Homo sapiens: one gene and its partners. The protein of the gene in region 1 interacts with the protein of each later gene in a pairwise test. Each region holds a gene or a part of one and is shown on either strand. Other genes may lie near its edges. The genes, in order: SGSM3, RAB5C, RAB5B and FMO3.

Region 1 (7,000 bases):
GATAGGGCAGTTGTGTTTTTTGTTTTTGTTTTTGTTTTTTTGAGACATAGTCTCACTCTGTCACCAGGCTAGAGTGCAGTGGGGCAATCTCGGCTCACTGCAATCTCTGCCTCCCGAGTTCAAGCAGTTCTCCTGCCTCAGCCTCCCGAGTAGCTGAGACTGCAGGCGTGCACCACCACACCCAGCTAATTTTTGTATTTTTAGTAGAGACGAGGTTTCACCATGTTGGCCAGGATGGTCTCCATCTCTTGACCTCGTGATCCGCCCTCCTAGGCCTTCCAAAGTGCTGGGATTACAGGCGTGAGCCACCACACCTGGCCTGATAGGGTGGTTTATTTATTTTTATTTTTATTTATTTTATTTATTTATTTTTGAGACGGAGTCTCCCTCTGTCGCCCAGGCTTGAGTGCAGTGGCGTGATCTCGGCTCACTGCAAGCTCTGCCTCCCGGGTTTATTTACGCCATTCTCCTGCCTCAGCCTCCTGAGTAGCTGGGACTACAGGCGCCTGCCACCATGCCCGGCTAATTTTTTGTATTTTTTTTAGTAGAGACGGGGCTTCACCGTGTTAGCCAGAATGGTCTTGATCTGACCTCGTGATCCGCCTGCCTCGGCCTCCCAAAGTGCTGGGATTACAGGTGTGAGCCACCGTGCCCAGCCAATAGGGCGGTTTTTATAGTTTGAGAGTTGGGGAAGGAACACTTTATTGTGAAGATGTCACTGGACTGCCACCAGAGAGAAAGCTTAAATTGGTCTAGACTGTAGTGTCAAGACTGCGTGCTTAGGTATATACTTTTAGGGAAAAGCTGTATCCACTGAGAGATGACATGGTTGAAAGATACAGTATAGGCTTTAGAGTCTGACAGATCTGGTAACTGAGCTACAATTTCTTCTTTGTAATACTTGCCTGCAATGTAAGCTCTATGAAAGTAGGGGCTTTGTGTTGTTCACCACCTCACCCCCATCTCCTAGAACAGTGGTAGGTGAGCAATAAATATCTGTTGAATGGGGCCCAGTACGGCGGCTCACGCCTGTAATCCCAGCACTTTGGGAGGCCAAGGTAGAGGATTGCTTGAGCCCAGGAGTTCAAGACTGGTCTGGGCAACATGGCGAAATGCCATCTCGACCAAAAACATAAAATTGCCAGTCATGGTGATGTGCGCCTGTGGTCCCAGCTACTCGGGAGGCTGAGGCAGGAGGATTGCTTGGGCTCAGCTCAGGAGGTCGAAGTTGCAGCCAGCCATGTTTGTACCACTGCACTCCAGCCTGGGGAAGAGAATGAGACCTTGCCTCAAACAAACACATTGTACCAGTACTATCAGTAGTAGCATATGACTGAAATAACAAGGCTAGATTTTCAGTGTGGCTTATGAACTGATTTTGACAGCACCATTGTTTGAATGCTACATATATAATCACCTCCCCTTTTTGAAAATTTAGGCTTACTAATTTATGCTCACCATTTATACATGAGGAGAGATACATTCACCTCTTTTCAGTAGGCACAGTTAACTATTAACTGTCTCTTCTAATATATGCCTCTTTTGCAGTGATAAACATATTTCTGCTTTTTCTAAGTGTGATACATGTTTTGTATTTGTTTTTCTCTCTACTAATGATGTAAATTGTTTTGGGAGGTTAACTGCTTTGGAATAATTAAACAGCTTTATCAACAAGAGTAACTGATATCAGAAATTAGATTGATAGGCCGGTTGTGGTGGCTCACGCCTGTAATCCCAGTGCTTTGGGAGGCCGAGGTAGGCGGATCACCTAAGGTCAGGAGTTTGAGACTAGCCTGGACAACATGGTAAAACCCTGCCTCTACTAAAAATACAAAAATTAGCTGGGTGTGGTGGCAGGCGCCTGTAATCCCAGCTATTCGGGAGGCTGAGGCAGGAGAATCACTTGAACCTGGGAGGCATAGGTTGCAGTGAGCCGAGATCATGTCATTGCACTCCAGCCTGGGTGACAAGAGTGAAACTCTGTCTCAAAAAAAAAAAAAGAGATTGACACCCCCAATTCAGTGTCAAAAGTCTTATCTTGGAAAGGGTATAATTTCCAATTAAGACAGAGAATTTTTTTTTTTTCACTACAACAAAATTATGTGACTTTTCTCACCCTTCTCTAGATATCTAATTAGCCTGCAAGCTAACACTCTAAAGACATGAAACAGGCTGGGCTTATGTCTGTAATCCCAGCACTTTGGGAGGCTGAGGTGGAAGGATCACTGAAGCCCAGGAGGTCAAGACCAGCCTGGGCAACATGGTGAGACCCTGCCTCTACAAAAAAATTTCTAAAAATTAACCAGATATGGTGGCGTGTGCTTGTGGTCCCACCTACTCAGGATGCTGAGGCAAGAGGATCACTTGAGCTCAGGAGATTGAAGCTGTAGTGAGCTGTGATCACACCACACACCACACACTCCAGCCTGGGTGACAAAGGGAGACCCTGTCTCAAAAAACTGGAAAAAAAAAAACAAGATATGAAAGAACAGATCATTTCCCTTTTCCCTCTCTTGTGTTTGAGTTTCGTTTGTAAATATCCTTAATTATGTGACTTGAGGATAGGGTTAAAGTCAAATTACCACTTTTTTTTTTTTTTTTTTTTTTTTTTTTTTTTGTCTTTTGGAAACAGTACGGTAGTCGGAGCACCAACAATGAAGTTCAACTTACGGCTCTGCTGCTTGCTTCCTTGCTTGTCTGCTTGCTTGATTGATTGACAGGGTTTTGCTCTGTTGCCCAGGTTGGAGTGCAGTGGCATGATCATAGCTCACTGAAACCTCAAACTCCTGGGCTCAAGAGGTCCTCCTGCTTTAATCTCATGAGTTGCTGTGATTACAGGTGCATGCCACTGCACCCGGCCTGGCTTTACCATTGTAAACTTCGAGAACTTACAAGTTATCTGTCATGCCTCATTTCTCTCACCTGCAAAAATGGAATAATTAGTGCTACTCATAGTAATAGCTAATATGTATTAGGTGTTTGCTATATATACCAGTCACAGTTCTAAGAATTTTATTTGTATTAACTCACAATCCTCACATCAACCCTATGTATTGCTAGTATTATGCCCATTTACAGGTGAGACAACAGTGACAGAAACAGTAATTTGCTAAAGATTGGTGGAGTCAGGATTAGAACTTAGTCTGACTCTAGAGTTTATGCTCATAATCTCCACCTTCATAGTTTTTTGTTTTTTTTAATTTAGCATATAATCAAGAAATAGAGTAGTTTTGAAGATTAAATAAAATCTATATAAAATGGCTGTGACAAGCATTTACGGTATTAAGTACTACAGTTAGCTTCGAGTTTACAAAGCATTTTGCACACATTTTCTTTGATTGTCATAGGAATAACCAAATATGCTTGTGACCATCACTGTCCGGCAGGAAACAGGCACACATTTGGTCACTTTCCCAGTCATGCAGCATGTGTGCAGACAGTGCCCTGGTGTTGCTCCTCCATATCTAGATCATGTGGAATTTGAAGCATCACATTTTGAGAAAATTTAGTAGACATAAGTTGTTTTGGCCTGTCCAGCATCCAATCCAGGTTCTTCTGGGGATAACAGCTCAATTTTGCTTTGGAGAACAGTTCATCCCTGACCAACTAGGTGGTAGGCACATGGCCCAGGTCAGGCCAACAGATGTTAGGCAAATAGATGCTTTCCTCCTTTAATTTGAATCTTAGGTTGAATGACACAGTAACAAAAGTTCAATAAACAGTTGCAGCTCCTTCATCACAACCACAGGCTAATTCCTAATATCTGGGCACTAGAGCTGCTGTTGTTTTCAACGAGCTGAGTCTTCAGCTTTTCCTTGGTTTTATGTCCTACTACATATCCTTCCAATACATTCCTGTCTTTCATAACTTAAGTTACCCAAAGTCAGTTTTGGTGGCTTGCAGCTGAGACACCTTTAACTTTTACATGGCATGAGGTCATGTCATGTAAGAGTTAAAATAGGCCTGGTGTCGTGGCTCACGCCTGTAATCCCAGCCCTCTGGGAGGCCAAGGCAGGCGGATCCATTGGGCTAAGGAGTTTGAGACCCGCCTGGGCAACATAATGGGAACCTGTCTCTACAAAAAAAAACTTTAAAAATTATAAATAGCTGGGCATGGTGGCATGTGCCTGTAGTCCCAGCTACTTGGGAGGCTGAGGTGGGAAGATTACTTGAGCTTGGGAGGTCAAGGCTGCAGTGAGCTGTGATCGTGCCACTGTACGCCAGCCTGGGTGACAGAGCAAGACCCTGTCTCAAAAAAAAAAAAAAAAAAGTTAAAATAATCAGCTAACTTTAACCTGAAGAGGAGAGAAATCTTGGAGAAGATGTGGGTATCTTCAAATGTCTGAAGTATGTAGAATACAAAGTACCCCTAAAAAGACCAAAGAGTAGATATTACTAGCAAACAGATTTCTGCCCACGTTAAAGCCTAAGGCAGGGCTATCCACAGGTGACAGACTGTCTTGGTATGTGGAAATAGATACATCCACTAAATTGTTCAAGCCAAGACAAGATGGTCACCTGGGAGGAGTAATATGGGTTTAGTAATCTAATGGGGACTGGGTGTGGTGGCTCATGCCTGTAATTCCACTGCTTTGGGAGGCTGAGGCAGGATGATCGCTTGAGGCCAAGAGTTTGAGACTACCCTGGGCAACATAGCAAGACCAGCATCTCTACAAAAAAATAAGAAAAATTAGCCAGGCATGATGGTGTGTGCCTGTAGTCCTAGCTACTTGGGAGACTGGGGTGAGAGGATTGAGCCCAACAGTTTGAGGTTATAGTGAGCTGGAATAGTGCCACTGCATTCCAGCCTGGGTGACACAGCAAGACCCTGTGTATATTAAAAATAATAATATGGCCGGGCACGGTGGCTGATGCCTGTCATCCTAGCACTTTGGGAGGCTAAGGCGGGCAGATCACTTGAAGGTGGGAGTTCGAGACCAACCTGGCCTACATGGCGAAACCCCATCTCTACTACCAAAAATACAAAAAATTAGCCGGGTGTGGTGGCGCATGCCTGTAATCCCATCTACCAGGAAGCTGAGGCAGAAGAGGAACCCAGGAGGCGGAGGTTGCAGTGAGCTGAGATCACACACTGCACTCCAGCCTGGGTGACAGAGCGAGACTCTGTCTCAAAAAAAAACAGAACAAAACCAATAATAATAATCTAATGGGTTGTTGTACTGAATGAACTGTAAAGTTCTCTCCAATTCTGAGATCGTGATTCTCTGATTGAAATCTAAATCTGCAGACTCCGAGACCTAGAGTTCTTTTTAGAAGATTTACCTGCTTTTCCTCACTTTTCCAACCTAGTCTCTTATATTCCCGCTTCACCACCTATGTGCTGCTCTTTGTTTCGGACCTCTGCTTCCATCAGCTCCTCACCTTCTTCAGGTGTTTGCTCAGATTTTTCTTACTGAGCCTTCCCTGACTACCTAATTTAGAATAGCAGCTCCTGAAAGTGCCTATGGTTCTTCCTGCCTCATTTTACTCTGTAGCACTATTCATCTGACATACAGTGTGGTCTCTTATTAATTTTTTAAGTTACTTCTTTCCCCTCTAGAATGCTGGGACTTTCAAAGAAGGGATTTCTATCTATTTTGAGCACTTCTGTGTTCCCGACACTTAAAACAGTGCCTGGTACATAATAGGCACTCAATAAACATATGTTGATTGAATGAGTATTTCCTCAACACAAAGTCACCATTGGGTCTGCTTTGTGTTCTAGGAGAATATCTAGCTCATGCTGTCCACTTCGTACCTTTTCTCTGTTGCTTCCCTTACTCGCTGGTGCCTTTCTCTTTTCCTCTTCTCTTTGGATCACAGCATTTCAAGACTAGAAGTCTGAGATCACCTCTTCATAAGGACCAGAGTCCCTGTGTAACACAGCTAGTTAATGAAAGATGTGGGGTGGAGGGTGACTGACTGTTGGATTGTTTATCTCTGTTAAACTGTGGTCTCCCTAAGTCTTGCTCAGTTCAGGCCCGTGCAGTGCCTGCTGCAGCATATGCATATCCCTCAGTGAGTTATTAAGTAAATATCTTCCTCCTTCATGAAGGCTTTTCCATATCAACCTGTAGTTATCTCTTTATTTCTTTGAACTTTGGTAGTATTTGTGGTCTCTGTTCTTATTATTAAGGCAGGGTCTCACTTTGTCACCCAGGCTGGAATGCAGTGGCACAATCTCCACTCACTGCAACCTCCACCTCCCAGGCCCAAGCAATCCTCCCACCTCAGCTTCCTGAGTAATCTGGGACTACAGATTTGCACCACCACGCCCAGCTAATTTTTGTATTTTTTTGTAGAGATTGGGTTTCGTCATGTTGCCCAGGGTGGTCTCAAACTCCTGGGCTCAAGTGATCCACCCTCCTCGGCCTCCTAAAGTGCTGGGATTATAGGTGTGAGCCATCGTGCTCGGCCTGGTTTCTCTTATTAACTGGCCTTGGGTTGTTTGCCATTTTATGTGTCTGTCTGGTCAATGAAATTATAATCCCATGGACAAAGACTAAATGTACCTACTACAGAACCTAGTCCTGAGAGGCAGTATAAAGTAGTGAAGTGCTGTCCAAGAGAACTTTATACAGTGCTGGAAATGTTCTTGTATGACTATTAACATTTTTTTAATGCTGTGTGTGTATTTGTATGTGTGTGTGATTAAGTAATTACACTTATCTGCACCACCCAGGAATAATCAGTAAACATTCTGGCATTTATTTCTTTATTCATCTATTAATTGTACATTTTCTAGCTTTTTTTAACCATGAATATCTATAATTTTTTTTTTTTTTTTTCCTGAGACAGGGTCTCACTCTGTCACCCAGGCTGGAGTGCAGTGGCACTATCTCAGCTCACTGTAACCTCCGCCTCCCGGGTTCAAGCAATTCTCCCACCTCAGCATCCCGAGTAGTTGGGATTAGAGGCATGCCCCATGACACCTGGCTAATTCTTGTATTTCTAATAGAGATGGGTTTTCACCATGTTGGCCAGGCTGGTCTCGAACTCC
Region 2 (7,036 bases), on another chromosome or scaffold:
GGTCAGATGTGACCTGATCTAACAGTGGGCCCTTCTTCGGCCTGGTTTGTTCGTTAAATGAATGAACATGCAGACTGAGTGCGCCACGGCACAAGGGCAGACTCTTAACTCTTTAGCCCTCCTCATCACTAGCGCTCCTCTGTTTTTTTGTCTTCCCCAGCGTCTACCCGACCTCCTGTCTTCTCTCTTGACCCCTTTCACCTCTGCCTCTGAGGACCAAAACAGTTAGGAGTCCCAAGTCAGTACTCTTCAGGGCCTGAGAGTTTGCTGACATCTACATGTCATTAATTTTTCTGGGAACCTGAAAGTCCTAATGGCTAGAAAATGAAAGTTAAAGTGAGTAAACTCAGGGGTCCCACTGGGCAGGGTTAAGGGGGAAGCAACAGAGCGGGCCTCTGGTTAGTCCTCTGTTTCTCCTGTGGTGCTGCCTGCTGCTTGCAAGTGGGAAGAATGTGGCTTGCCACCAGGAGCTCCTGTCACTAGAATTTACATGGAAACAGAGCAAGATCATACATTTAAATTCAGCCCCACCAAGCAAGTACTTCTTAGACCTTCTACTTCTTTTTTTTTTTTTGAGTCGGAGTCTCGCTCTGTCGCCTAGGCTGGAGTGCAGTGGTGCGATCTTGGCTCACTGCAAGCTCCGCCTCCCGGGTTCATGCCATTCTCCTACCTCAGCCTCCAGAGTAGTTGGGACTACAGGTGCCCACCACCACGTCCGGCTAATTGTTTTGTATTTTTAGTAGAGATGGGGTTCCGCCGTGTTAGCCAGGATGGTCTCGATCTCCTGACCTCGTGATCCGCCCACCCTGGCCTCCCAAAGTGCTGGGATTACAGGCGTGAGCCACTGCGCCTGGCCAGACCTTCTACTTCTAACCCTTGCCCAGTAAACAGGCAGTGTGGTCGGGTGGAAGGCACTAGAACTTCAGAGGCAGTTGGACCTGAGTTCTCATCCTGATTCCCCCACTTACCAGTTGTGTGACCCTGGGCTTGTTACTTGACCTCACTGAGCCTGTGTTTCTTCTGGTAAAATGGGGATGCTAAATACCTTGCAGAATTAGAAACAAAGAAAGGAGCTAGTCCAGTGCTGGCAGACTGGATGCCCACAAAATAGCAGTTGCCTCTGATGGGTAGGTAGGGGTTTGAAGGTTCTTTTTTTTTTTGAGGCAGTCTCATTCTCATTCTGTTGCCCAGGCTCACTGCAACCTCCGCCTCCTGTGTTCAAGCGATTCTCCTGCCTCAGCCTCCTGAGTAGCTGGGATTACAGGCACCTGCCATCATGCCCGGCTAATTTTTTTTTTTGGTATTTTTGTAGAGATGGGGTTTGACCATGTTGGCCAGGCTGGTCTCAAACTCCTGACCTCAGGTGAGGTGATCTGCCCGCCTCATCGGCCTCCCAGAGTGCTGGGATTACAAGCATGAGCCACCGTGTCTGGCTGATTTTTTTTTTTTTTTTTTTTTTTTTTTTTGAGATGGAGTTTCACTCTTGTCTCCCAGGCTGGAGTGCAATGGCGTGATCTTGGCTCACTGCAACCTCTGTCTCCCGGGCTCAAGCTATTCTCCTGCCTCAGCCTCCTGAGTAGCTGGGATTATAGGCGTGTGCCACCATGCCCAGCTAATTTTTGTACTTTTAGTAGAGACAGGGTTCCTCTATGTTGGCCAGGCTGGTCTCGATCTCCTGACCTCAGGTAATTGTGCCCAGCCTCAACACTGATTCTGATTCAACATGTGTACCAAATGTATGCTGGGGCTGGGCACAGTGGCTCATGCCTATAATCCTAGCACTTTGGGAGGATCGCTTGATCCCAGGAGTTCAAGACCAGCTTGGGGGCCAGGTGTGGTGGATCACGCCTATAATCCTAGCACTTTGGAAGGCTGAGGCTGGGAGATCACCTGAAGTCAGGAGTTCGAGACCAGCCTGGCCAACATGGTGAAACCCCATCTCTACTAAAAATACCAAAATTAGTCAGGCGTGGTGGCACATGCCTGTAATCCCAGCTACTTGGGAGGCTTAGGCAGGAACCTGGGAGGCAGTTCAACCTGGGAGGTGGACGTTGCAGTGAGCCGAGATTGCACCACTGCACTCCAGCCTGGGCAACAGACCAAGAGTCTATCTCAAAAAAAAAAAAAAAAAAAACCAGCCTGGGCAACATAATGAGACCCCATGTCTAAAACAAAAACAAAATGTCTGCTGGGATGCCTTGTACATTGCTTGATGGTTTCACAAATTGTCTCATTTTGTAGACATTGAACAGAATTGATGTGGGTTGTATTCCCATTTTACAGAAGAGAACGCTGTGCCACTTCAGTTTTACTTAGTTGTAAGCGTTTTAATATTAAAACAGTCCTGTAACTATTATAGATTAGAATGCAAAGTTTGCATGAATTGAAGCTAACACAGGAAACTTTAATTAATTAATTAATTTATTTATTTTTGAGACAGGGCCTCTCTCACCCAGGCTGGAGTGCAGTGGGACGATCATGGCTTACTTCCGCCTTGATCTTGTGGACCCAAGTGATCCTCCCACCTCAGCCTCCTGAGTAGCTGGGACTGTAGGCATGTACCACCATGCCCGGCTAGTTTTTGTATTTTTAGTAGAGACAGGGTTTTGCCATGTTGCCCAGGCTGGTCTCAGAACTCCTGGGCTCAAGTGATCCTCCTACTTTGGCCTCCCGAAGTGCTGGGATTACAGGCATGAGCCGCTGCACCTGGCCAAAGACAGTATTTTGCTTGTAGCCAGCTGCTTTGGGTTCAACTCCCAGATTTCTGGGAGTTTCCTCTCCCCTGACTTGAGTGAAGGGTACATATGTTGGGGCTGTTTGAGAAGCACTGCTTTAGGTAGAATTTATAAACTAGGATGTGCCAAAATCCAGGTAATCATGCTTGCAAAAACCTTGGCAGAGGAGAATCGGAATATTTTTGGCATCCTCTGCATTAATAGCTTGGTATTGTAAGAGATTACTTTTCCAATTAAATAGCCCCATCCTCTATGTATAAGAACAGTAATACAAATAAAAGCTAAACTTCTATTTTTGCCATGTGCCAGGCACTCTTGTGAGCCCTATGTGTTGACTCCTTTAATCCTCCGACAACCCCAGGAGGTAGGTTCTGTGTTTAATCCCCATGTTAGAGTGGGGGACTATGTAGTAATGGCAGAGATGGGGTGTGCTCTTATCGCTATTCAATACAGCCTCTCCTTGACCCATCTCTGGGCTAAATGCCTACTGTTCACTTTGCCTAGAAGGCTCTTCTGCACCTCACGTGCCTGGAAACTGTATCTCCCTACTTTTCTCTCAAAGCTCAGTTTGAATGCCACTTCCTCTGTGAAGCCTTCCCTTGCCCCAAATGGGCTGAGGGCTTGTCTCCTACATGGGCTGTCTTCTCAACTGCTATCTCATTGTTCCTTATTTGCCTCATTCTCTGGTGGGTGAGCCCTTTAGGGGCACAGATCGGGTCCTGTTTGATCTTTGTGTGTTTAGGACCTGGCATGGCACTCAGCATAGTAGGCTCCCTACTGAAGTTGTTAAAGGAGAGGGCAGACATTCAAACCTGCCCTTAAAGCAAACACCAAACACCTGCCCACTTCTTTTTTTTTTTTTTTTTTTTTTTGAGATGGAGTCTTGACCTCTCACCCAGGCTGGAGTGCAATGGTACGATCTTGCTCACTGTAACCTCCGCCTCCTGGGTTCAAGTGATTCTCCTGCTTCAGCCTCCCTAGTACCTGGGATTACAGGTGTGTACCACCACGCCCATCTAGTTTTGTATTTTTAGTAGAGACGGATTTCACCATGTTGGCCAGGCTGATCTCAAACTCCTGACCTCATGATCTGCCTGCCTCAGCCTCCCAGTGCTGGGACTACAGGCATGAGCCACTGTGCCCAGCCTTGCCCACTTCTTTTTTTTTGTTTGTTTTTGAGACAGAGTTTTGCTCTTGTTGCCCAGGCTAGAGTGCAATGGCACAATCTCAGCTCACCACAACCTCCGCCTCCCGAGTTAAAGAGATTCTCCTGCCTCAGCTTCCCAAGTAGCAGGGATTACAGGCATGTGCCACCACGGCCGGCTAATTTTTTGTATTTTTATTAGAGATGGGGTTTCTCCATGTTGGTCAGGCTGGTCTCGAACTCCCAACCTCAGGTGATCCACCCGCCTCGGCCTCCCAAAGTGCTGGGATTACAGGTGTAAGCCACCATGCCTGGCCCTCGCCCACTTCTTTTAACACACACTTCCCTTCCTTTCTTCACACACTTTGGATGTCGTGAACCTATGATTCAAACTTAAATCCATCTGATCCCACAGCTTGAGCCATATCTTTGGTCCATCCCCCAGAAAGTTGCTCACAGACAAATGGGAGAGCAAACAGGTCAATAGGATCAATGTTACAGTACGGATGATGGGAAGCAAGTCACAAACTCAGTTTCCAGAAGTTAAGACTCTCCAAATCTCCATTTCTGGTGAAGGGTTTAATGGGACAATGAGGGCGCGGCCCTGACTAGCCACAGTCCGGCTGACTGGCTTCTGCCGTGTGTGTATCTGATGGCAGGACAGAACGACCGTGCTTCTGCAGTTGTGTGTGGTGAGGCAGCACCGACCCCAGACCAGTACTTAGCAAGGATCAGTGGAAGCAAATTTGACTCTGCCTGTGGATACTGTTCTGTATGTCTGCACAAGGCTCGTTCCTGAGTGAAGGTGGCTTAAAAAAGTGGTGGCAGCAGCTGTTCAGACCAGTGGTATGAGCAGCCCTCACATGTGTATTCCACAGATGGGGTCTTTAACATTCCCTGGTCCTGTGCCTGCAGTACTTGGATATCCTCTGCTCACCTTGAGGCTGGTCTTTCTTTCTTTCTCTCTCTCTCTCTCTCTCTCTCTCTTTCTTTCTTTCTTTCTTTCTGTTTCTTTCTTTCTTTCTGTCTTTCCTTCTTTCTTTCTTTCTTTCTTTCTTTTTCTTTCTTTCTTTCTTTTTCTGTCTTTCTTTCTGTCTTTCTGTCTTTCTTTCTGTCTTTCTTTCTTTCTTTCTTGACGAAGTCTTGCCTTGTCGCCCAGGCTGGAGTGCAGTGGTACGATCTCGGCTCACTGCAAGCTCCCGGGTTCATGCCATTCTCCTGCCTCAGCCTCTCGAGTAGCTGGGACTACAGGCTCCTGCCACCACGCTTGGCTAATTTTTTGTACTTTTAGTAGAGGCAGAGTTTCACCATGTTAACCAGGATGGTCTCCATCTCCTGACCTCGTGATCCGCCTACCTTGGCCTCCTTTTTTTTTTTTCTTTTGAAATGGAGTCTTGCTCTGTTTCCCAGGCTGGAGTGCAGTGATGCCATCTTGGCTCACTGCAACCTCCGTCTCCTGGGTTCAAGTGATTCTCCTGCCTCAGCCTCCCGAGTAGCTGGGACTACAGGCGTACGCCACCATGCCCAGCTAATTTTTATATTTTTAGTAGAGACGGGGTTTCGCCATGTTGGCCAGGATGGTCTTGATCTCTTGACTTTGTGGTCTGCCTGCCTTGGCCTCTGAAAGTGCTGGGATTACAGGTGTGAGCCACTGTGCCTGGGCAATTTTTGATTTTTTTGTAGAGACGGGGTCTCCCTATGTTGCCGAGGCTTAATAAACTTATTCTTTCAGAATACTTTTAGAAAAGTTACGCAGATAGTACAGAGTTTTCTCACAATCCCTCACACATAGTTTTCCCTGTTATTAACATCTTATGTTAGTACGTATTTTACATTAAAGTCCATCCTTTATTCAGATTTCCTTAGATTTTTACCTGATGTCCTTTTGCTGTTCCAGGATCCCATGTTACCTATATTCATTGTCTCTTTAGGCTCCTCTTGCTGTGCCAGTTTCTCAGACTTTTATTGTTTTTGATGACCTTGACAGTTTTGAGGAGTGCTGGGCAAGCATCTAAAGAGGATCTCGGCCAGGCGCGGTGACTCACGCCTGTAATCCCAGCACTTTGGGAGGCCGAGGTGGGTGGATCACTTGAAGTCAGGAGTTCGAGACCAGCCTGGCTAACATGGTGAAGCCTCATCTCTATTAAAAATACAAAAATTAGCCAGGCATGGTGGTACGCACCTGTAATCTCAGCTACTCAGGAGGCTGAGGCACAAGAATCGCTTGAACCAGGAGGCAGAGGTTGCAGTGAGCCAACATCGTGTCACTGTGCTCCAGCCTGGGCTGGAGACAGAATGAGACTCCGTCTCAAAAAAAATAATAAAAAATAAAGAGAATCTCTTCTCAACTGGGATTTGTCCAGTATTTTTCTCTTTTTAACAGAGTCTTGCTCTGTCAGCCAGGCTGGAGTGCAGTGGTGCAATCTCGGCTCAAGCCATTCTCCTCAGCCTCCCAAGTAGCTGGGACTACAGAAATGCACCACCACGCCTGGCTAATTTTTGTAGAGACAAGGTTTCACCATGATGTCCAGGCTGGTCTCAAACTCCTGAGCTCAAGCGATCTGCTCACCTCAGCTTCCCAAAGTGGTGGGATTACATGCGTGAGCTAACACGCCTGGCTGTGTCCAGTGTTTTTTTCATAAGTAGACTGTGCCAAGTTTTGGGAAGGAGGACCAGAGAGGTAAAGTGCTATTTTCATCACATCATGTCAAGGGTACATACAATCCACAAGCCTTTCCATGACTGATGTCAACCATGATCACTTGGCTGAGGTGATGTGTGTGAGGCTTCTCTGTAAAGTTGTTCTCCCCTTCCCCTTTCCATGCTGCATGCACCCTTTGGAAGAAAGTCACTGTGTAGCCCACACCTAAGGAACAGGGACTTATGTTCATGTTCCCCTTGTTGAGGGCGGAGTAGCTACATGAGTTACTAAATTATTTTTTCTTTTTCTGTTTTTTTTGAGATGGAGTCTCACTCCATCGCCCAGGCTGGAGTGCAGTGGCGCAATCTCGGCTCACTGCAAGCTCCGCCTCCCGGGTTCACGCCTTTCTCCTGCCTCAGTCTCCCGAGTAGCTGGGACTACAGGCCTATAGGCGCGCGCCACCACACCCGGCTAATTTTTTTGTATTTTTTTTAGTAGAGATGGGGTTTCTTTTTT
Region 3 (7,036 bases), on another chromosome or scaffold:
CTGGAGTGTGGTGGCACGATCTCGGCTCACTGCAACCTCCGCCTCCCGGGTTTAAGCAGTTCTGCCTCAGCCTCCCGAGTAGGATTACAAATGCCGGCCACCAACCACACCCGGCTAATTTTTTTTTTTTTTTTTTAGACTGAGTCTCGCTGTTGCTCTGTCGCCAGGCTGGAGTACAGTGGTGCAATCTCAGCTCACTGCAACCTCCACCTCACAAGTTCAAGCAGTTCACCTGCCTCAACCTCCCAAGTAGCTGGGACTACAGGCACGCGCCACCACGCCCAGCTAATTTTTGTATTTTTAGTAGAGACGGGGTTTCACCATGTTTGCCAGGCTTGTCTCAAACTCCTGACCTCCTGATCTGCCTGCCTTTGCCTCCCAAAGTGCTGGGATTACAGGCGTGAGCCACTGTGCCCGCCTTTTATTTTTTGAGACGGAGTCTCGCTCTGTCACCCAGGCTGGAGCACAGTGGCGCATCAGCTCAGTGCACCCTCTACCTTCTGGGTTTAAGCGATTCTCCTGCCTCAGCCTCTGGAGTAGCTGGGATTACAGGTATGCACCACCACACCCAGCTAATTTTTTTTGTATTTTTAGTGGAGACGGGGTTTCACCATGTTGGCCAGGCAGGGCTCGAACTTCTGACCTCAGGTGATCCACCTCAGCCTCCCAAAGTGCTGGGATTATAGGTATGAGCTACTGCACCCAGGCTGTGGCTGCTTTTTAGGAATATATTGATAACAACTAATATTGAGATATATTTTAATAGCTATTAGCACTATGCTAAACACATCTTTCACTTATTATTTGTAGCTATGAGGATGGTATTTTTTCCATTTTACAAAGGTAGAAGGTAAGGCTTAGAGAGGTAGAGAAATTCTCTTTATATCATATTAGTAATGATTAGTAGCTTAATATTTATTTAGCACTTAGTATCTATCAAATACTTAAAATACTTTAGTTATTTATATGCATTATCTCATTTAATCCTTACAACACCCTTATGAAGTAGGTGCTTATAAGGCTATTATCTCATTTTACAGATGAGGAAATGAATGCACACATATATTTAGTGACTTGCTCAAGGTTCATAGCTAGTAAGTAGAGCTGAAAAACAAACGTGGAGAATTGGACTCCAGAGCCTTTATTCCTCTGAATTGCCTCCTGTATGATTTTCTGTCTTTACGATCTAGTAAGTGGGGTTACTGAAAATTTTTAACCCCAGTTTAACTCCAGTCCCACTAATTGTGGTGACAAAATAATGATGTTTCCCCACATATGCCATAGAGTATGATGTCTGTGAAGTCACTAGGATCTGCTTTGGAAAAGCGAAAGAGTAATTTGAACAAGCAAAGTACAACTCTCAAGCAATGCTTAGGTTTGGGAGAGAGGTTTTTGCATGCTCTGCCTATGCTAACTTCCCTTTGAATTTCATAGTTCCTTTCCGCTCAGAGTCAGGATGATGAAATGTATTCAGATTTAGACGATTAGAATCTCAAAGTCCCAACTCTTCTCTCTGTTCCCTGCCCCACCAGCAGCTTTCTTAGCCCTCTTAGAAGATAGAGGAGCTGATTCAGTGTATTCTTTCATCAAATACTGATTGCTTGCAGACTTAACGCCCTATACCATCCTCTGGAGACTTCTGCATGTCTTTAGAAGGTATACCTTTCTCTGCCTCTAATTTGGAGGGCTACAGCTGTTAGGCCCCTTTGGTGTGGAGGGTAATCTAATCCCTAGGCACCAGCAAGACAGCTGCAAGTTGAGAGTAGGTCAAGCTTACTGATTCTTGATAGACTTTCAGATTTGGAAAGATGGCAGAAACAAAGTGAAAAAAGAGTTGTTAATGAAACAAAGAGTTGATAATGAATGTGATCTGTTGGTTGTATTTCTCTCTTTACCTTCAACCAAAAATGAGAAAGGATAGATTTTGTGGCAATGGGACCCTGGTTAGATCTTTAGAAATGTCTTATCAGGGAGACCGGTCATATATAAAGGATACAGCAGCAACTACCCTTCTGCCCTTAGGAGTGGTGACTCTTATCCCACACCCCTAGAGTGAATCTCTCATTTTGACAAAGAGCTAAGGAAAAATGAAAAGAAGGCCAGGCACGGTGGCTCATGCCTGTAATATCAGCACTTTGGAAGGCCAAGGCGGGCAGATCACCTGAGGTCAGGACTTCTTAGACTAGTCTGACCAACATGGAGAAACTCCGTCTCTACTAAAAATACAAAATTAGCCAGGCGTGGTGGTGCATGCCTGTAATCCCAGCTACTCGGGAGACTGAGGTGGGAGAATTGCTTGAACCCGGGAGGCAGAGGTTGTGGTGAGCCAAGATTGTGCCATTGCACTCCAGCCTGGGCAACAAGAGTGACGTCTCAAAAAAAAAGAAGAAAAGGAAAAGAAGAGCACAGCACCAGGATGCCAAGGAGATACTGGGGATCTAGGGTACCGGTGGGTGGATCTGGATATTCTTCAGGCCAGCTAAAGGTTGATCACTTTGTGTGACTCAAACAAAAAACTTTGAAGACCTGGTGGGGAATTACTGGGGAATTAAAAACTCTCAGTTTTCAGTCTCTCTATTTCGGCTCCCTTGGCAGTTAGAGATTATGTGGTAGGGCAGACTCCAGAAGCAGTTCTTATTTTGCTCTTCCCAACTCTTACCACTGAGGATCAGCTGCCTGGGACCTTCTCAGAGCTAAGTCCTCATAGAAGCAAGGAGATGAAGAGGTTCTATCCTTCTCTGAAAAGCGATTGCAGCTTCAATGGACGTATGTTTAATTTTATTCACTTTTTTTTCTTGCAGGAGTGTTGAAGCCTGGAAATCCCCTCCCCTTCCCCCTCCCCCCTTTACAGTATCCCCCTCCCTCCACCCTTTCCCATTCTGATAATCTGGCCATGACTAGCAGAAGCACAGCTAGGCCCAATGGGCAACCCCAGGCCAGCAAAATTTGCCAGTTCAAATTGGTCCTGCTGGGAGAATCTGCAGTGGGAAAGTCAAGCCTGGTATTACGTTTTGTCAAAGGGCAGTTCCATGAGTACCAGGAGAGCACCATTGGAGGTGAGTGCCTTGGGGTAATAGGAGATTGAATGTTTGGTAAGGGTTTTTTTTTTTTTAGATGGAGTCTTGCTCTGTTACCCAGGCTGGAGTGCAGTGGCGCAATCTTGGCTTACTGCAACCTCTGTCTCCCAGGTTCGAGCGATTCTCATGCCTCAGCCTCCCGAGTAACTGGGATTACAGGTGCACACCGTGGCACCTGTCTAATTTTTGTATTTTTAGTGGAGAGGGGGTTTCACCATCATGTTGGCCAGGTTGGTCTCAAACTCCTGACCTCAGGTGATCTGCCTGCCTCGGCCTCCCAAAGTGCTGGGATTACAGGCGTGAGTCACCACGCCGGGCCGGTAAGGCTTTTGAAAAGAGATATAAGACCTGATTATGGAGCTGGCCCTCTTAGTCCCATTCTTTTCCCCAGAAATGGAAACCCTTTATAAAAACAGAGGCCGGTCCCAGTGGCCCACCACTTTGGGAGGCCAAGATGGGCGGATCACCTGAGGTCAGGAGTTCGAGACCAGCCTGCCCAACATGGCGAAATCCTGTCTCTACTAAAAATACAAAAAATTAGCCAGGCGTGGTGGCAGGCGCCTGTAATCCCAGCTACTCGGGAGGCTAAGGCAGGAGAATCACTTGAACCCAGGGGGCAGAGGTTGTAGTGAGCCGAGATTGCGCCACTGCACTCCACCCTGGGCGACAAGAGCAAAACTCCATCTCCAAAAAAAAAAAAAAATCAAAATCTGGTAAAATAGGCTGGGCATGGTGGGTCACACCTGTAATCCCAGCATTTGGGAGGCCAAGGCAGGCGGATCACTTGAGGCCAGGAGTTCAAGACCAGCCTGGCCAACAAGGTGAAATCCCCGTCTCTACTAAAAATACAAAAAATTAGCTGGGCGTGGTGGCACATGCCTATAATTCCAGCTACTCAGGAGGCTGAGGTAGGAGAACTACTTGAACCCAGGAGATGGAGGTTGCAGTGAGCCAAGATTGCGCCATTGCACTCCAGCCTGGGTGACTAGAGTGAAAATCCGTCTCAAAAAAACAAAACAACAACAACAACAACAAAGATTAGCCGGGCATGGTGGCACATGCCTGTAATCCCAGCTACTTGGGAAGCTGAGGCAGGAGACTCGCTTGAACTCATGAGGCGGAGGTTGCAGTGAGCCAAAATCACGCCAGTGCATTTTATCCTAGGCGAAGGAGCGAGACTGTTTCAAAAACAAAAAAAAATCTGGTAAAATAGAGGCTGGAACTAATGCAAAATACAAAGGGTGTCTGTCTTTCTCATCTTTGCTACCTTTTCCCCACTACTACCCCAAAATAGGGTGCTAATTCAATAAAGGATCTTTTATGAGAACTTCCAAATTATTCCTTCCCCTTGTTATTTTTATTTATTTATTTATTTATTTTTGAGACGGAGTCTCTGTCGCCCAGACTGGAGTGCAGTGGTGCAATCTTGGCTCATTGCAACTTCTGCCTCCCAGGTTCAAGTGATTCTCGTGCCTCAGCCTCCTGAGCAGCGGAGATTACAGGCACATACCACCATGCCCGGCTAATTTTTGTATTTGTATAGAGACAGGGTTTCACCGTGTTGGCCAGGCTGGTCTCAAACTCCTGACTTCAAGTGATCCACCCGCCTCGGCCTCCCAAAGTGCTGGGATTACAAGCATGAGCCACCGTGCCTGGCCTCTTTCCCCTTTTTATTAGTCATCTTGGAAATGTATTCCTGGACCTGCAGCAGATTATATGAAAAAGTAACAGCCAAATAATATTGATAATGATGGGACTTGCCATCAAGCTTTAAAATCTTCTAATTAATTCTTTTTTTTTTTTTTTTTTTTTTTGGATACTGAGTCTCACCCTGTTGCCCAGGCTGGAGTGCAGTGGTGCAGTGGTTGCCCATTGCAACTTCCGCTTCCCCAGTTCAAGCACTTCTGCTGCCTCAGCCTCCCAAGTAGCTGGAATTACAGGCGTCCATCACCATGCCTGGTTAACTTTTGTGTTTTTAGTAGAGGCGGGGTTTCACTATGTTGGCCAGGCTGGTCTCGAACTCCTGACCTCAAGCCATCCACCTGCCTTGGCCTCCCAAAGTGCTGGGATTACAGGCATGAGCCACTGCGCCCAGCCAATCCTCTAATTAATTCTTTTGTTTGTTTGCGTTTGTTTGTTTGTTTTTTGAGACGGAGTTCCGCTCTTGTTGCCCAGGCTGAAGTGCAGTGGCGCCATCTTGGCTCACTGCAACCTCCACCTCCCAAGTTCAAGGGATTCTCCAGCCTCAGCCTCCCGAGTAGCTGTGATTACAGGTGTCCACCACCACGCCTGGCTAATTTTTGTATTTTTAGTAGAGACGGGTTTTGCCGTGTTGGCCAGACTGGTCTCGAACTCCTGACCTCAGGTGATCCACCTGCCTCAGCCCCCACCTCCCAAAGTGCTGGGATTACAGGCGTGAGCTACCGTGCCCAGCCCAATCTTCTAATTAATTCTTGATGTGACTTTTATCTGAAGCTATTTTCTCTGTCATTTGTTATTCTCCTATTTTGGTTAGAAGAAGGATGACTCGTATAAGTGCCAGTTCTTCTGTCCCTCTTAGTTTATGATGTACCCCCATTCCTTAGCTAGTGACATTTCTGGCAGGAAGGACTTAGCCAAGGGCAGTCTTAATCCTGGTTTCAAGACTTACATGTAAGGAGAACTCAAAACCTTTTCCTGTAGCTGACTATCCTGGGTGGTGACTGGTCTTAGTGTAGGGCAGTTACATTTTGAAGGGGGGGAGGGATGTTCCCATTCATCCTCCCACTTACAGCATCTTCCCCTCCATTCTCTCATCCATAGCGGCCTTCCTCACCCAGTCCGTTTGTCTAGATGACACAACAGTGAAGTTTGAGATCTGGGACACAGCTGGGCAGGAGCGATATCACAGCTTAGCCCCCATGTACTACAGGGGTGCCCAAGCTGCAATCGTGGTTTACGACATTACTAATCAGGTAAGTGAGCTAAGAAGACTGTCCTTGTTGGCTGGACATGGTGGCTTACGCCTATAATCCCAACACTTTAGGATGCCAAGGCGGGAGGATCATGAGGTCAAGAGATTGAGACCATCCTGGCCAACATGGTGAAACCCCGTCTCTACTAAAATTACAAAAATTAGTTGGGCGTGGTGGTGCGCGCCTGTAGTCCCAGCTACTCGGGAGGCTGAGGCAGGAGAATCGCTTGAACCCAGGAGGCGGAGGTTGCAGTGAGCCGAGATCGAGCCACTGCACTCTAGCCTCGGCGACAGAGCAAAACTCCGCCTCAAAAAAAAAAGAAAAAAGACTGTCCTTGCTTATATTTAGAGGAGTTAGTTTGGGGCAGGGGGTAAGGGGGCAGAAAACGGGTTCTTGAAATAGCAAATAAGAGTACAAATTATGCTTCCAAGTGCTAAGAAGACAGATAATGAATTATCAGAGACCTGTGGTTTCACTGAGGGAAGACCACCTAGAAGAGGTGAATTTTGAGACTCATTTTAAAAGGTGATGGATATGGATTGGCAGTCATTCCAGCCTACTCATTCTCTTCATGTTTTCCTAGGAAACCTTTGCCCGAGCAAAGACATGGGTGAAGGAACTACAGCGACAGGCCAGTCCTAGCATCGTTATTGCCCTGGCAGGGAACAAAGCTGACCTGGCCAACAAACGTATGGTGGAGTATGAAGTAAGGTGGCCCGTGGAGTTCCTCTCTAACACTTCCTCTGTTCCTGGGACCTCTTTTTTTCCAAACCAGCCCTCTCTGAAAACGTCAACAGAGGACATTCATTGTCTCATTCCCCAGTTCTACACCAAGTTAAATACAGCAACACTGTGACCCTAATGACAGCCAGGAGATTTTCAAAGGAGTCAGGAGAAAACTCCAGAGCAGAGGGTTAGGGAGGTACCAGCTGTGGGGGTACCAGTGTGAAAACAGGAAGGAGGGAGCAATTAAATTTGTGGTAAGGGACTATTCAAGTGTCACAA
Region 4 (7,036 bases), on another chromosome or scaffold:
TTTTCTAAAAGTATAAGCAGGTTAAATTAAAATATACTTCTGTTATATCTAATATGCTTGGTGTGTTAAAATAGCACATTATTGTGACTGCATCTATTCACAAGGTCGCTTCTGTTAAAGTCTTTGTTTAAATATATGACTCAAACTGCCATGTATTTCTCACTTTTCACTCAGGACTAAACCACTTTAAAGGCAAATGCTTCCACAGCAGGGACTATAAAGAACCAGGTGTATTCAATGGAAAGCGTGTCCTGGTGGTTGGCCTGGGGAATTCGGGCTGTGATATTGCCACAGAACTCAGCCGCACAGCAGAACAGGTACTACTCCCCGGGTACTCGGGTGACTCTCGTTACTGACAGAAGAGTTATTATCGTTTGAAAGGTGTGATATGAAATGTGGGGGAGGAGGGAAGGGTATCTGATGTAAAGACTAAGTGGTATTTCACATAGCTGAGCTTCCCCAAGTAACAGGTGAGGTTTTAAATCACTTCATAGACAAAGGCAGAACATCAGCAAGGAGTAACTGTCATTCAACAATCTCCTTCTTCAAGACATTTGATGCCTAATATCTCGGATCAATTTCTCTAAAACTAGCACAGATTTAGGGTGAAGGTTATGACTCTTAGACTCGGGCAAGTCCTTCAATCTCTCTGAGGCAGGTTTCTCAATGGTAAAACAGATAAAAATAGAACCTACTTCTGGGCTTGTTATAAAGTTAAAGCTTTTGAACAAGACTTAAGCAATACAGAGTGGCTCATTTATTCATTCATTTATGATGCAGGCACACATTTATTCAATGACTACTTATTGAGGGCCTACTATGTGCCAGGCACTGGGTTGGGTGCTGAAGACAGTGGTGAACATAACAGGCATGATCCCTGCTCTGGAACAAGAGCTGCCACTGGAAAAAAAGGATAAACAAGTGATTCAGGCACTAAATGCTATGATTCCAAAACTGGATGCTTCACAAAGGAGGTAGAATAGAACCAGTCCTTGAACAATAAATATAAATCATGAGACTGAAGAGGCGACAGAAGCTGTTCTTAGAATTGGAAATGCCACAAGCAGAGGCAAGAAGACAAGAAAATGAGCATTGTATATTTTACTATTGTAGGTTATAGTTTCATCTTGCTGGAATGGAGGTTCTTAATGCTAACAATTTGTATGATGCATTATGGTACTCAAATACCTTCCTGTAAATGGGCTCCTTTGCTTGTGGGAAGAAAGTAGTTTTATAACAGAAAGGATAAATGAGGACCAGAAATGTCAATTGTCTTCTTGAAAGTCATTGAGAAAATTAATGTTTGAGCCACTGAAGGGTTACAGAACTGAAAGCCAAAGCTTCCGAATCCAAGGAACAGTAGTCATAGGATTGCGTTACAGGAAAGAAAGATTGGGATCAGATTATATCACATATTTTAAGGACTTGAATGACAGGATAAAATAGATTTCTGTGTAAATAAAGGTAAATCATTATTTCAGCTTCTTGGGTTTAGGAAATTTATGATGAACTCATAGTTTTCACAGATTTCTATTTGTATATGTGATTATTTGCATATGTGATAAATTAAAGGGAAGATCAATTTCAGAGGCTATTTAATTAATTGATCCTTTAGTCTCTTCTTTTTTTTTTTTTTTTTTTTTTTTTGGAGACAGAGTCTCACTCTGTTGCCCAGGCTGGAGTGCAGTGGCACAATCTCGGCTCACTGCAACCTCCGTCTCCCAGGTTCAAGCAATTCTCCCATCTCAGCCTCCTGAGTAGCTGGGATTACAGGCACCCACCACCACACCCCATACCCAGCTACTTTTTGTATTTTTAGTAGAGACAGGGTTTCACCATATTGGCCAGGCTGGTCTTGAACTCCTGACCTCAGATGATCTGCCCACCTAGGCCTCCCAAAATTCTGGGATTATAGGCGTGAGCCACCATGCCCGGACTCCTTTAGTCTCTTCTTGTCTAGTTCCTCTTATAACAAATGCCTTGAAGTGATATGGCATATAAAAATTGGTTTTAAAAAAGACAAAGAAAGCCTGAAAACTACACTATTATGGATTAGCATAACAGAAGGGGAAGGAAAGGAAACTGACATTTACTGAGCACATACTATCTGCCAGGTAACGTTAGCCATGTGACATAGTTTATCACATCGAATTAACGCTTACACAAATTTGATGAGGCAAATTCGATTCTCTCCATTTTAGGAATGAGGGAACAAGATTAGAGAAGTTAAAGGAATTTTTTCAAATCACATCATTAATAAGTAGGAGAGCCAGCGTTTGAGCGTATGGTTTTCTGATTCCAAATTTCTCACCTTCTTTCCAGATAGTAGCAGGCATTTTGCTTTAAAATGCCTATTTTGAGATCATAATTGCTTATTTGTAGACAGCAATAGTTAGATAAGTGCTAGGGAAAACGTGACTAGAATTCAGTTATTAGTCACCTGTAGCAGAGATTGATTAAAATATGAAAATTTGCCTGCAGCACTGTGACAGGGTGGCTGACCCTAAGATGTAGATGTAAAGTTCAGACGTTTATTTGGGAACACTCTCAGGATCAATACTTCCACAGGAAGGGAAGGAAGCTTCCATTTACTTTGAAGCTGGGATGGTCCTTTGGCATTGCCCCAATTTGAGGTGAGGGACTGGGCCTTTATACGCCCGCATTGACCAGTCACTAGATGGAGGAAACTCAGAAAGAGTAGAAGATGTTGGGTGAGGCCCCTCTCTTCAGCCAAAGCAATGGTCAAAAAGGACTGACAGCTGAGAGATGTCTTCTGACACCACTTTCTGCAGCTGGGGTAATAGATCCATTCCTCAAGAGGGATCTGGGGTGCTCACCAGAATATCCACTACAAATGGTCACTAATTTCATGGTTGAATTGGTGTTTTTTAAGGTCATGATCAGTTCCAGAAGTGGCTCCTGGGTGATGAGCCGGGTCTGGGACAATGGTTATCCTTGGGACATGCTGCTCGTCACTCGATTTGGAACCTTCCTCAAGAACAATTTACCGACAGCCATCTCTGACTGGTTGTACGTGAAGCAGATGAATGCAAGATTCAAGCATGAAAACTATGGCTTGATGCCTTTAAATGGGTAATGCAGAGCTAAACGTGATATGCCTGCTGGCTTTTAGTTCAGTGTCAACAACCCTTAATGTCCTGTAAGCCCAAAACAAATCAAAGTATTAGCAATCACAACTCATATATCAGAAGATAAAGAACTGCACAAATTAAGAGTGATTTCCTATTTTGCAATCCTCCTTACTATATTTACACAGCTGGAAAATTATATAATGCCTCAGGAATTAGTCCCGGGAGTAATGATAATCAAAGTTAACCTCTTTTAAGCATTTTATACATGTCAGAGATTTAGCAAGACTCTGCTAAGGCTCTGGCATATATTATTTCATTTTATCCTTACAATTATGAAGAGAGCTCTACTAGTATCTCCATTTTAGAGATGAGATAACTGCGTTTCAGTGTAGTTAATAACTTTACTAAGGTCCCACAGCCAGGAAGTAGAAGCAGCGTTCAAAACAAACCCAGATCTGCTGATTCTAGAGCCTCTCAGTCTTGGCCACTTGCTCTACTACCTGTCACTTAATGGCAAAGTTAAGCACATCAGGAGAACGTTTCATGTCCTACCTTTCCCTCTTCGTTTCATCACCCACCCCTTAATGGACCCCCTCTCACTAAACACATACTTACCAATGCTTGCATCTTCAGTCTCCTTCCCATCTTCTCCTATAACGTCCTCCAAGCCAGTAACATAACAAGAAATGACTTTGACAAGAGGTGAAAAACCCAAGTTACGAGCTGTTTTCATCAAAGTGAATTCATTAATTTGACAAACATTTATTACACGTTTATTATATGCCACATCCTGTGTTTAGCCCTGTGGATATAGTAGTGGACAAAACATGCAAAAATCCCTGTCCTCATGGAACCTACATTCTAAGTGGTGGGAAACAGACAAACAATAGCATAAGATCATATGGCGATGTGTGCTTTGGGGAAGAAAACAAAGCAGATAAAGGTAATGGCAAGTGCTGTCAGGACAATTTCCAATAGAGTCCTCAGAGTATGTCTCAGGGAGGAGACTTTTAAGAAAACCTCTGAAGGAGTTGAGGGAATGAGCCATGAGGGTCTCAGGGGAAGGGTATTCCAGACTGAGGACACAGCCAGGGCATTTACGGGCAGGGCTGGCATGATCAACAAACAACAATGGGGCTTCTCTTCCTTGAGAAAAGAGAATGAGGGGAGAATGCCAGGAGATAAAACCAGAGACATAAAAATTGTTGGATGGCGTGGGCCTTGTAGATCATTGTAAGGACTCTGGCTTTTACTCTGAAAGCAATGGGAAACTACAGCAGGCATCTGAGCAAATGAATTACAAGACCTAAATTAGCATTGCAGAGATTGATCGGCTGCTGTGGTCATCATTCAATGTAAGGGTAGGGCAAGGAAGGAAGTGAAAGGACCAGTTAAAAAGCTACTCTCAAAAACCTGAATCAGAGGGGATGTTGGTCTGGACCAAAATTGTTAGCAGTGAGTGGTCAGAATTGGGCAGATTTCTGGATAGCTTGAAGGTCGACCCAAATAGGATTTTCTGTGGACTGGATAGAGGATGAGAGAGCAAGGAGGGAGTAAGAATGTCTTCAAGATATTTGAAAAAGGATGACATTGACGTTTACTAAAATGTGAAAAACTGCAGGAGGAACAGAAGTTCAGTTTTAGACATATTAAAGTTGGAATGCCTATTAGACATTCTGGTAGAAGAATGTTGAGCCAGCAGTGGGAAACACAAGACAGGAGGGAGGCTCAAACCAGAAGTTAAAACTCTGGAGTCATGAGAAAATTTTTCCTGAAGAAATGGAACTAGATGACATCTCTTGAAGAATGCATGTAAATGGAGGAGACTAAAGGTCTGGGGACTGAGTCCTGAGGTATGCCATTGTCAGAAGTCAGGAAGAGGAGAAGACATCTGTGGGAGACAGAAAAAGAATAGCCAGCAAAGTAGGAAAGGAACTGAGAGAGAGTGATGACCTGGAAACAAAATGAATACAGTGTTTCAAGAAAGAGGAAACCATCAATTATGTTAAATGCTAAGTTGAGTAAAAGGGAAAGTGAGGGTGGACCACTGGATCTGGGAGCCTGATTCTGATGGCCTTGACAAGAGCAGTTTCAGCGTGGTGATGGAGTTTGTTCTCCAGTGGAATCTGCCTGTAGCACTCTCTCACAGCTCCCACAGCCATACAAGAACAACACTCTTTCCTTCAACTGTATTCACATTCATCCCTGGGTTCAGATTTCTCTGCTCCCACTACAGATATTATTGAATAAAAAGTAGTCCAAAGCTCTCTCTTTCCAGACTTGCAGTTGCCAAAGCCTCAAACTGGCACCCTCCCTCTGGCCTTATTTAAATTCCTGGGTGCTCCCTCCTTCACCTGATTGGTGCCTCTGTCTGCATGGGGCTCATACTTCATCCCTCAAGAGCCCAGCTGCAGCTCTCACACCTTTGACTTTCCTCCTCCTATTTGGTCTTCTCCACAGTATGATGACCATCTTGGAGTATACTGAATTAAGAATAACAGTTAACATTTTCGAGCTCCATGCATATGCTAGAGACTGTGCAAAACTCTTTATATCATTTAGGGAACTTCTGAGGTAGTACAAACATTACTGACATTCCAGATGAGAAATATGAGACACCAAGAATTTAAAAAACATAATCTCATCAAGGTTCCCACTGAATAAGTAGCAACTTTAAAAATGTAAACACCGAGGTACCCTCACTTCAGAGTTTTTCCTGAAACAGGCTTTAACAGGGAACTGGGCATAAGCCTTTATTCCGGGATTTGGAAAGAGCTCCATGGAAGAGAAGGATCACAGAAAATAGAGATGGGGCCAGCAAATAACAACTTCTCTTACTTCCCAATGTTGCCTCCCATCAATTTTGTTCTTCAGCCATATTGGAGATACTCTATGCCTCAGAAAAAAAAAATCTTGGGTCATTTTTTCCTTCCTTATCAATTTATATATGGACCAATAAAACAAGAGGGAAATATTACACTTCCAATAATTGTCTCTGTTTTCCATACAGAGTCCTGAGGAAAGAGCCTGTATTTAACGATGAGCTCCCAGCAAGCATTCTGTGTGGCATTGTGTCCGTAAAGCCTAACGTGAAGGAATTCACAGAGACCTCGGCCATTTTTGAGGATGGGACCATATTTGAGGGCATTGACTGTGTAATCTTTGCAACAGGGTATAGTTTTGCCTACCCCTTCCTTGATGAGTCTATCATCAAAAGCAGAAACAATGAGATCATTTTATTTAAAGGAGTATTTCCTCCTCTACTTGAGAAGTCAACCATAGCAGTGATTGGCTTTGTCCAGTCCCTTGGGGCTGCCATTCCCACAGTTGACCTCCAGTCCCGCTGGGCAGCACAAGTAATAAAGGGTAAGTCAATAAAGAGGCTCATGGATTGCGAAGATGAATGCCAGTGACAATAACTTTGGATCTTTGTGAAAACAATAATCCTAGTTACAAGGTCCCCTTCAGTTTTGAAAATTTATAATTCTATATTCTTTAGTGCTATATTTTGTTAGCAATTTAAAGTATACCAGTTTGGATTATTGTATGAAATACTACAAGATATTATTAGAGGAGGCATTTTGTGACTACAACTTCTTACAGCTGATAATTACCCAAGATCATTTATTAGACTTGAGACCACCAAAGCTCACATCCACTTAAGACTAAGTGAATGACAACTTTATAAAATTATGATTGCAAAACTCAGTAGAATTACATTGCTTGAAAAGTTCATAAGAAAATATGTTTACGAGCCAACATCCAGCCAACTTCAAATATCCACAGTCATGGAAAATATGATTGCTGGAAGGCAATGGCTTTTCTACTATTATTTTCTTCCCTGACAAAAAAAGGACAAACAGTGGATCAACAGAGGCAGAAAGTGCTAAGAACAAACAGTGGATCAATAGAGGCAGAAAGTGCTCAGTGTAGTAGATGATCAG

What was found.
Region 2: the proteins of SGSM3 (region 1) and RAB5C interact in a two-hybrid assay, tested with the Homo sapiens proteins (one study listed by BioGRID).
Region 3: the proteins of SGSM3 (region 1) and RAB5B interact in a two-hybrid assay, tested with the Homo sapiens proteins (one study listed by BioGRID).
Region 4: the proteins of SGSM3 (region 1) and FMO3 interact in binary tests that used the Homo sapiens proteins (3 or more experiments, as listed by UniProt).

The regions. Positions count from the first base shown.
Region 1 is NC_000022.11:40,373,594-40,380,593, forward strand, and holds part of SGSM3 (small G protein signaling modulator 3), read left to right. Parts: intron 1-7,000. UniProt on the Homo sapiens protein: May play a cooperative role in NF2-mediated growth suppression of cells.
Region 2 is NC_000017.11:42,144,975-42,152,010, reverse strand, and holds part of RAB5C (ras-related protein Rab-5C), read left to right. Parts: intron 1-7,036. UniProt on the Homo sapiens protein: The small GTPases Rab are key regulators of intracellular membrane trafficking, from the formation of transport vesicles to their fusion with membranes.
Region 3 is NC_000012.12:55,984,068-55,991,103, forward strand, and holds part of RAB5B (ras-related protein Rab-5B), read left to right. Parts: intron 1-2,801; coding exon of another isoform or gene 2,802-2,893; coding exon 2,894-3,056; intron 3,057-5,879; coding exon 5,880-6,031; intron 6,032-6,614; coding exon 6,615-6,737; intron 6,738-7,036. UniProt on the Homo sapiens protein: The small GTPases Rab are key regulators of intracellular membrane trafficking, from the formation of transport vesicles to their fusion with membranes.
Region 4 is NC_000001.11:171,107,905-171,114,940, forward strand, and holds part of FMO3 (flavin-containing monooxygenase 3), read left to right. Parts: intron 1-174; coding exon 175-317; intron 318-2,893; coding exon 2,894-3,093; intron 3,094-6,102; coding exon 6,103-6,458; intron 6,459-7,036. UniProt on the Homo sapiens protein: Essential hepatic enzyme that catalyzes the oxygenation of a wide variety of nitrogen- and sulfur-containing compounds including drugs as well as dietary compounds.